Homo sapiens: one gene and its partner. The protein of the gene in region 1 purifies or fractionates together with the protein of each later gene. This does not show direct contact. Each region holds a gene or a part of one and is shown on either strand. Other genes may lie near its edges. The genes, in order: RUNX2 and TCF15.

Evidence for each region.
Region 2: the proteins of RUNX2 (region 1) and TCF15 purify together in Homo sapiens (affinity purification with mass spectrometry; one large-scale study listed by BioGRID and IntAct). This does not show direct contact.

The regions. Positions count from the first base shown.
Region 1 is NC_000006.12:45,334,784-45,338,603, forward strand, and holds part of RUNX2 (runt-related transcription factor 2), read left to right. Parts: intron 1-3,820. UniProt on the Homo sapiens protein: Transcription factor involved in osteoblastic differentiation and skeletal morphogenesis. Essential for the maturation of osteoblasts and both intramembranous and endochondral ossification.
Region 2 is NC_000020.11:607,484-611,794, reverse strand, and holds the start of TCF15 (transcription factor 15), read left to right. Parts: upstream 1-1,485; 5' UTR 1,486-1,557; coding exon 1,558-2,082; intron 2,083-4,311. UniProt on the Homo sapiens protein: Early transcription factor that plays a key role in somitogenesis, paraxial mesoderm development and regulation of stem cell pluripotency. Essential for the mesenchymal to epithelial transition associated with somite formation.

The DNA of each region.
Region 1 (3,820 bases):
CTGAGGTACTATAGTTCTGTCATGAAATATAATCAAAATTTTTTTGCATGTAAGTTAACAAATGTCAATCTATAAAACCAGTAACAGGGATTAGGCATCTACTAGGAATTTCAAGACTAAAATAATCAATCTTATAAAATCCAAAGATGTTATTTTCCAGTTATAAACTTAAGTAACAATAATTAAAAACTGATATCAGTTAAACAAAGTATTAGAGTTTATAAGGGCAAATATGAATGGAATTAATTTGCTAATAGATTCCTATTTATAAATATTATCTCAAAGAACAACTCTGGCTTGAAGCTAAACAGGTATATTTTCTCATTGACCATGTAACCTGGGTAAACAATTTAAGCATTGAATTTCTAATTTTTCTATGATAATTGCTAGAATTAACTTTCTTTTTAAATTTCTGTACTGAACTTCCCAGTTTAAGACTTCAAATTCCCAATATAATTTTAAGTGAAAAGATATAATTTTACTAAATGATTACAAATTATTTAAATGTATCTAAACAATGTGAATTTACTTTGAAGCTTAAAAGAAAGGATCATGACATTTATTTTACTATGTAATATGGTATTACATTTTACAACATGTCAACCTACTGCTGTATCACTATAACGATCCTAGAAAATCCATGTGTATCAAAAAGGTACACAGTATGGATTCTCTTCAATCAATTACAATTTTATTATAAGATACTTTAATGCAAACACAGCTCATTAAAATACATTTTTTTAGATAAAAGTAAATTCTCATTTTATTTCATAAACTGTCAGATTACAGATATCTGTAACAACTGTACAGGATCACAGAAAGGAAACTTCTTTATGCTAACAATCCACATTATATCAATCACTGTGTTTTCCATAAAGCTGATACCTGTGAAAGTACATAAGCATTTCATACTAAGAACCTAACACCCAATTCAAAAATATTAAGACACCATGAAGTAATCTATGAGAAAACTCCCATCAAGACAACAGCATCTTAACATTAGGCAGGATAAATGGTTACAAAAGATAATCTAATAAGATTAATTTTTTTACCTCTCATGAAATCTGTAAAGCATTTCGGTAATTCAGCTTTTGACAAAATGCAGAAAAACTTGCTACTGCTCTTATAAGAGTCAATGCAAAAATGAAATATTTAAGAAGATAATGCCTATGGAGATACTACTTACAAAGACAATGTGCTACAGTGTATTTCTAAAGAAATGGAAATATACAAGTCAATGTACTCCAACTTTTGATCATTAATCCAACCTCCTTTCCACAGAAGAAACTCCTTTTCACATATTATAAACTCCAGTGTCCACCCAGAATTCTTCTATTCTCCCAGTTTTCAAAACCAAACACATATACATTATTTCTCTCTCTGTAATTTAGAAGGAAAACTTAACATTTTAAAAACTTTTTACCACTAGTAACCACTTCATTTTAAAAGTGTTAGCTAGATAAGGACAATGAGTACTGTCACGAAAGCTTTATTCTTGATTATGTAGTAAAGATTTAACAATATCCCTCCCTTATAACACGCATAAGCATATTGCAGAATATTTTTGTACACCAATAGGACTAGAGAAAACACATAAAGTGATCTGTTTTTAACATTATCACTCACAAGTACCCAGGAAGAAAATTTAGAGCCATGTGCTGATTATTAGGCTTATTTTTATTTTCATAAATATTCTGGTCCTATCAAGACACAAGACACACTAAAATCAGAATCTATCAAGATACACTTAAATATTTTTTAAAACATCAAAATACTTGGCTTAAATTGCTAAATTATTTAATTATTAAATGGTTAAACCACTCTATATATGTACAATAAATTTTTACTCAGACGTATTCAAACAATTTTCTTGACTATAAAATTAAATCCTGTGCTCCAAGAAATACTGTAACACAGTATTTTTAATAAAGTATTTACTTACAAAGTAAATACATATTAGATGTACAAAAAGATAGGAAGTGATTTTCTATAATATAACTTCATTAATAATACATGTAACTCAAATTTTCTACCTCTGTTTTAAACTTTCTTCATTCAAATACATGGTCAATTCACTTAATTTTTTTGATCCAGAAACATCTTAAATGCTGTTTTAAAGGAAACTTTAATAAAAATGGCCTTACTCATTATTATAAACTGGCATAAAAATATTTTTTGAAACTTGCTGTGAAAACAGTGTGATCTGAAAACTTACATACTTAAAACTTATGACATGAACACAAAAAATGCAAGCAAATGCATAAAACTACATAGCAACAATAATATAGTGAGAAGCCAACCCCGAACATAGGAGATATACATATGCTTTCTAAAATAAAAGCTCAAATTAAAGCTTGCCTTTTGAACTGCCCATATGAACAGAACAACATGCCAATGACTTACAGAATTTTTTTCTAAACTGGCAAGACTAAAAAGAATCACATCCAATCCCTATTTTGCAATTATAATGTGTGATACTTTCTTTAACCATAAGACTGTCATTTATTCTAAATTTGCTGGAAAAGCTTGCCATTGCATTTTTCCTGTACGTACCTCTTCCTTATCAATTATGGTGTATCTCCAGCATTCGAAGAAAAAAAAGCTCCAAAACTTTAACTGCATTTAAAATATATAATTAAATCAATATATACAAGGGTTACTCTAAAAATACTCATTTCTAGAAGGCCAGAAAATCTTATTTTTTTAAGCTGATGCATCTACACATAGAAAGCAACTTTTAGTAAGTTCTTTTGCTACGCCATAATGATCTGCTCCAGAAACTCAAGGGTACCTAAAACAACGGACTACCTGTTCTAGCCATGCTTAGGAATGTGTCCAAATCATTTTTATTGATTTAACCTTTATAGGAATGCTACATATCCTCAGAGCAAAACATTTTGAATGTATTTATAATATGATACACTTCTAGAAGCCATGAAAAAGAAAGCTAAAAACAAATCTAAGACGCCCCTCCACTGTTGGTTGTTATGTTTATTTTTGTTTATTTGAAACAAATATTAAATACATATTAAATAATTCTTTTTGCGAAAACTCACTTTGGTACTACTGTAAGTAGAAATAAGATTTTATTTTTTTAGAGAAAAAGTATATTTAAGTAAATTCTAACTTTAAGAAACAAAACTCCTGACTTGACAATGATGTTATCACCTATAAATTTTAAAGGATTCTAAATGCTTCTTTCATACTCTAATTACACATTAATCATGGAACCTATAAACAAATCAAACTTAAACTTACAGAATTTAGTCTTTATTGAATAAACTTAAGTTGTACTCTAGTTTTCATCCTCAGAGTTTACAGATAAAGTTCTGTGTAGCCTATCTTTCTAGCTTTCTGTAAGTTGTACTTTACAAATGGTTTCAACAGCTAATGCCTGTATTAGGTATGTTTGCCAAATAATTCACAATATTATGCTTCCTCACATTATGGTTCAGCATTTGCTAACTTAAACATCACCTCTAAAGAAGTTATACTTTCACTGCAGATTGTTCTCTCAAAAAAGGCAAACAACTTTTGAGCATTTCCAGATGTAGCTCTCATAAAAAAAAAAAATTATAGGCAACTTCTCAAGAAATTCTAAAATCAGTAATAAAAATACAATAAAACTGGTATCATTTCTGATTACTTCAAATGATCACATATAAGCTTATATAAAAAGCTGATGGTACTATATTTTGAATTAAGAAACTTTGACAGCTACAAGAGCACTGATTTCAGGTAGCTGCCAGTAGGTAAAACAACCAAGTGTATTTCAGTGTCAAACAAGATTCTGCTGAACTGGAATTTAGGAAGCTCTGAG
Region 2 (4,311 bases), on another chromosome or scaffold:
CACGGTCAAATGCTGGCGGTGGGGGGATCCAGGTGTGGGAACAGACTCTCCCGCAGACCCTGGGTCCTAAGGGGCTCCTCCCCCGGCAGTCATGGGAAATCCCTCGCTCCCTCTTCTTCCCCTAATTCTGGCCTGGATCAGGGAAGCCAGGAAAGCACAGCATGGCAGAGCTGCAGGCATCGTCAGGAAAACAGACGCCCAGAGGAGCCAAAATGCACCTAGAAGCCTTTCAACTCCACTCCCTGCGCTCTGTCTGCTACACCGGCTGCCACTCGGGCTTATTTTCAAGGCCAAGTGGATGCTGGTTTAGCTAGTGCCTGGAGAGAGCTGAGCAGCAGGCACGAGTGAGATCGAGACCCCGGCAACCACCTTTGGCTCAGCAATTCTCTGAAGAGGACACGTCAGGCTGAACAATCTAAGGTTTCTAGAAGGCAAGCAGGCATTGAGGAAAGATAGCCCGTGTGTGTGTGATGGGATGGTGGTGGTAGGATTCCAAGAGGTAGTGAAACCGGACAGGCTGGAGCTAGCGCCGCCACTCCCACCTGTACGACTGAAGGCCGGAGCTCTCTGACCTGTAACTCAGGGCTGCCATCCTGCAGCCTCAGCTGGGCGCAATAGAGTATATAGCACCGAGTCTGGTACACAGTAGTTCCTTAACCAAAACGTCAGTTCCGTGAGGGTGAAGAATTTATTTTGTTAATGGCTGTATCCTCAGACCTAAAACCATGTCTGACACATAGTAGGGACCCAACGAATATTTGTTGAAAAAACGAACGAACTACTGGTGTTTGTGTATTGTGGTTTTGTTTTGCTTTTTTTTTTCTTCTTCTTTTTAAGTTTGTCTTCAGGGACAAGACACTGTCGAATCCTCATTTGGAAAGATTATAGCTTTTCTCCAAGTGTTCTCCACGGACACCACCACTATCACCAATGGCTTGTTACAAAATGTAGGTTCCTGGGCCCGTTCCAGAACTGCTCAATCAGAATGGGAGCAATTTGGGACTCTGTAATAGCAAAAGCCCCTTCCCCAGTTCTTACGCACGTGAAAGCTGCAGAACTACAGGATTAGAATTGGAGGGCAGGCAGACACTAGCTGTTTCTCTGCAATCTGAACGTTCCGAACGAGGAAACTGAGGCCCAGAGAGGAGAAAGGGATCTGCCCGCGTCTCCCAGGTGGTCCAGGCTGGAGACAAAAAGTTCGGATCTGGGCCCACCCCGGCCGACCCTCCCAGACCTCCAGCATCTGCCGGGCTAGCCAGCCGGGAACGGGGGCCTTCGGGGTGGGCCGCCGGCTCCCGGGCCGCTTTCAACCTGGGGGACGGAGGCGGTGGGAGCGTCGCCATTGGCCAGGGCGCGGCGGACGCCTCCCCATTGGCCGGGCGGACGCCTCCCCATTGGCCGGGCGGAGCCCTCCGCCCCCGGCCGGGGCGGCCTTGCCATTGGCCCCTCCCTCGCCTATAAGGCGGGGGCCGGCGGGGCCGTGGGAGCGCGCGGGAGCGCACGGCGGGGCGCGGCCGACGCTGGGACGCGGCGCACGGAGGGACGCGGCCGGCGCCCATGGCGTTCGCGCTGCTGCGGCCCGTCGGCGCGCACGTGCTGTACCCGGACGTGCGGCTGCTGAGCGAGGACGAGGAGAACCGCAGCGAGAGCGACGCGTCGGACCAGTCGTTCGGCTGCTGCGAGGGCCCGGAGGCGGCGCGGCGCGGCCCGGGCCCCGGGGGCGGGCGGCGGGCGGGCGGCGGCGGCGGCGCGGGCCCCGTGGTGGTGGTGCGACAGCGGCAGGCGGCCAACGCGCGGGAGCGGGACCGCACTCAGAGCGTGAACACGGCCTTCACGGCGCTGCGCACGCTCATCCCCACCGAGCCGGTGGACCGCAAGCTGTCCAAGATCGAGACCGTGCGCCTGGCGTCCAGCTACATCGCGCACCTGGCCAACGTGCTGCTGCTGGGCGACTCGGCCGACGACGGGCAGCCGTGCTTCCGTGCCGCGGGCAGTGCCAAGGGCGCCGTCCCCGCCGCCGCCGACGGCGGCCGCCAGCCGCGCTCCATCTGCACCTTCTGCCTCAGCAACCAGCGCAAGGGGGTGAGTGTGCTGCGTCCCTCGCTGCGGCCGCCAGGTCGGGGTAGGCGGGGGGCAGCGCCTCTGCGGGAACCGGAGAGGTGCAGGGGTCCCCAACGAGGCCAGGGGGAAGCGACGTGGAATTCGTGCTGGGTGCGGCACCCCAAGCCCAGAACCACTGACTTAATGCCCAGGCCCCCAAACAGAAGGATGCGGGAAAACCCAGAGTTCGGGTCTGATTTAACTGCTCAGTGTGGGATATCCCCTCCAACGAAAGGTGTGCTGGAACTTCCTTCCTGCTGGGAAGACGGCATGAGGACTGAGTAACAAAGACCCATCTTTTATGGAGTCTTCCTCTGTGCCGATGCGCTCCACATCCACTTTTTTGCCTTCACAAGAATCCCTTCAGGCAGGTAGTTTTTCTGCCCATTTTATCCTGATGAGGATCTGAGCATCAGAGATGGGATCACCTGCCCACATTTACTCAGCTGGGAAGCCGGGGCGCTGGCCCTGGGCTTGCCCGGTGTGTGTTGCCCCCACCTTGAAATAATTGTCCCCTGTCCTAAGATCTAACCCAAGAGCAGGAGACTGAGAAGAAAGGAGGCCACAAACCGCCAACCGAGAGCCTGAGGTACCCAGCGGATGAGCAGTAGGAGTGAAGAAGGGGCCCTCTGAGAGTCCCCAGCCCCCAAAAGGACGTGGTGTTGGGAGAGGGCACTCTTGGGTCAGCTGGAGGGAGCTGGTGTGCAGCTCCTGCAATGTGTCCTGGGCAAGAAAGTGGATCAGGCTGGTAGGGGTGGGCGGGGGCTGTGTGGCAGCAGAGGTGGCCTCTTGGCTGAAACCTTGCCCAGGCTCCAAGGAACCTGCTTCATCCCCCGACCGTGTGCCTTTCTGGCCTGGGCTTTTCCTACAGTAAAGAAGCCTGTCTAACAACTTGTATTCCAGCAGCTACCATTTACATCCGGGGAAACTGAGGCTGAGAGAGTACTGACTTTTGGTGGCCAAGTGGAAGGGCATGGGGAATTGGAGTTAGGCCCCTGACTCCCTGCTGTTTGGTTCTCACAGCTGCCGTTGGTCCCTTGCTCCACCCTGTTCTGCGGAGGCCTCTGCATCTTGGCCTGAGACCACCCTCTGTCTGGCTCATCAGATATCCAGCCTGGTTGCTCAACACTTGGCTGCCTCAGTTGCCCTGAATCGTCGGTCTTCTTAGCCTCAGGCTTGTGCCCTCTCCAGGGTCCCTGCTGCTCCCAGCTGTGGGCCCCTGTCAGTGCCCCAGGCTGGGCTGAGAAGCCAGGAGTGGGCCTTTAAGGCTTCCTGGGATGGGAGGGCCTGAAGGGGCTCTCAGGGATACTCCCTGACTGCCTTTCACCCATTCATTCCAGTTAGCAACCCTTAGCTACCCAACAGCTGCCTTCTGTTGGCTCTGAGAACCCCAGAGAAGCAGGTTGTAGGTCCCCACCCTTCCACCAGTCAGGACCTGACAGTACAGCCCCAGGGTCAGGGCAGGGAGATGAAGATGAGGATGCTGTGGTCTGATGGTGGGGGAGGGGAAGCACAAAGGGATTCTCAGAGCCCAGAGAAAGCCTCCAACCCAGGGTGAGTGCTGACAGGGTTTCTGTGTCTCATTTCTGAAGGATGCTTTAGAACAGGGGCAGGCCGATGAAGGGGTAGGAAAGGGTGTTCTAGGATTGGGGCATACAGCAAGAGCTCAGGCCTAGAGAAGGAAGAGGGAAGAGGTTAAAAGTGGCAGGAGTGCAGAGGGGGAGCACAATGGCCAATAACAGCAGTGACAGCAGCCTTCATGAGCACTGATCTGTGCTAAGCGCTCTTTATGATTTATCATTAAAATCCTGCAACAGCCAGGAATGAGGCGCTGTGGTTATCCCCACTTGCTTAGAGGTGCTGCCAGTGGCGCAGAGACACACAGTCAGTGATGGAACCAGGATTCAAACTCAGGCCTGCCTGGTTGGGACGTGGGATAGGTTACAGAGGGAAGTCCCTGTAACTGTCATGTGTCCACCCCCATAGCAAGCAGGCTGGGGGACTTCTCTGCAGGTCTCAGGCCTGTCCCACAGCTCACAGGGGCCTCCCCTGGGCCTGGCCGCTTCCCTGGGATCTGTCTATGGGACCAAGAACTCAGCCAAATTTGGCTGTAGAAACCATGCTCTCAACCCCACGGTCTCCTCTGGGAATAGGCGAGAGGGGCAATCCTGGCCAGCTATGGCCCCTTGAAGACTCTGCTGGAAGAAAACT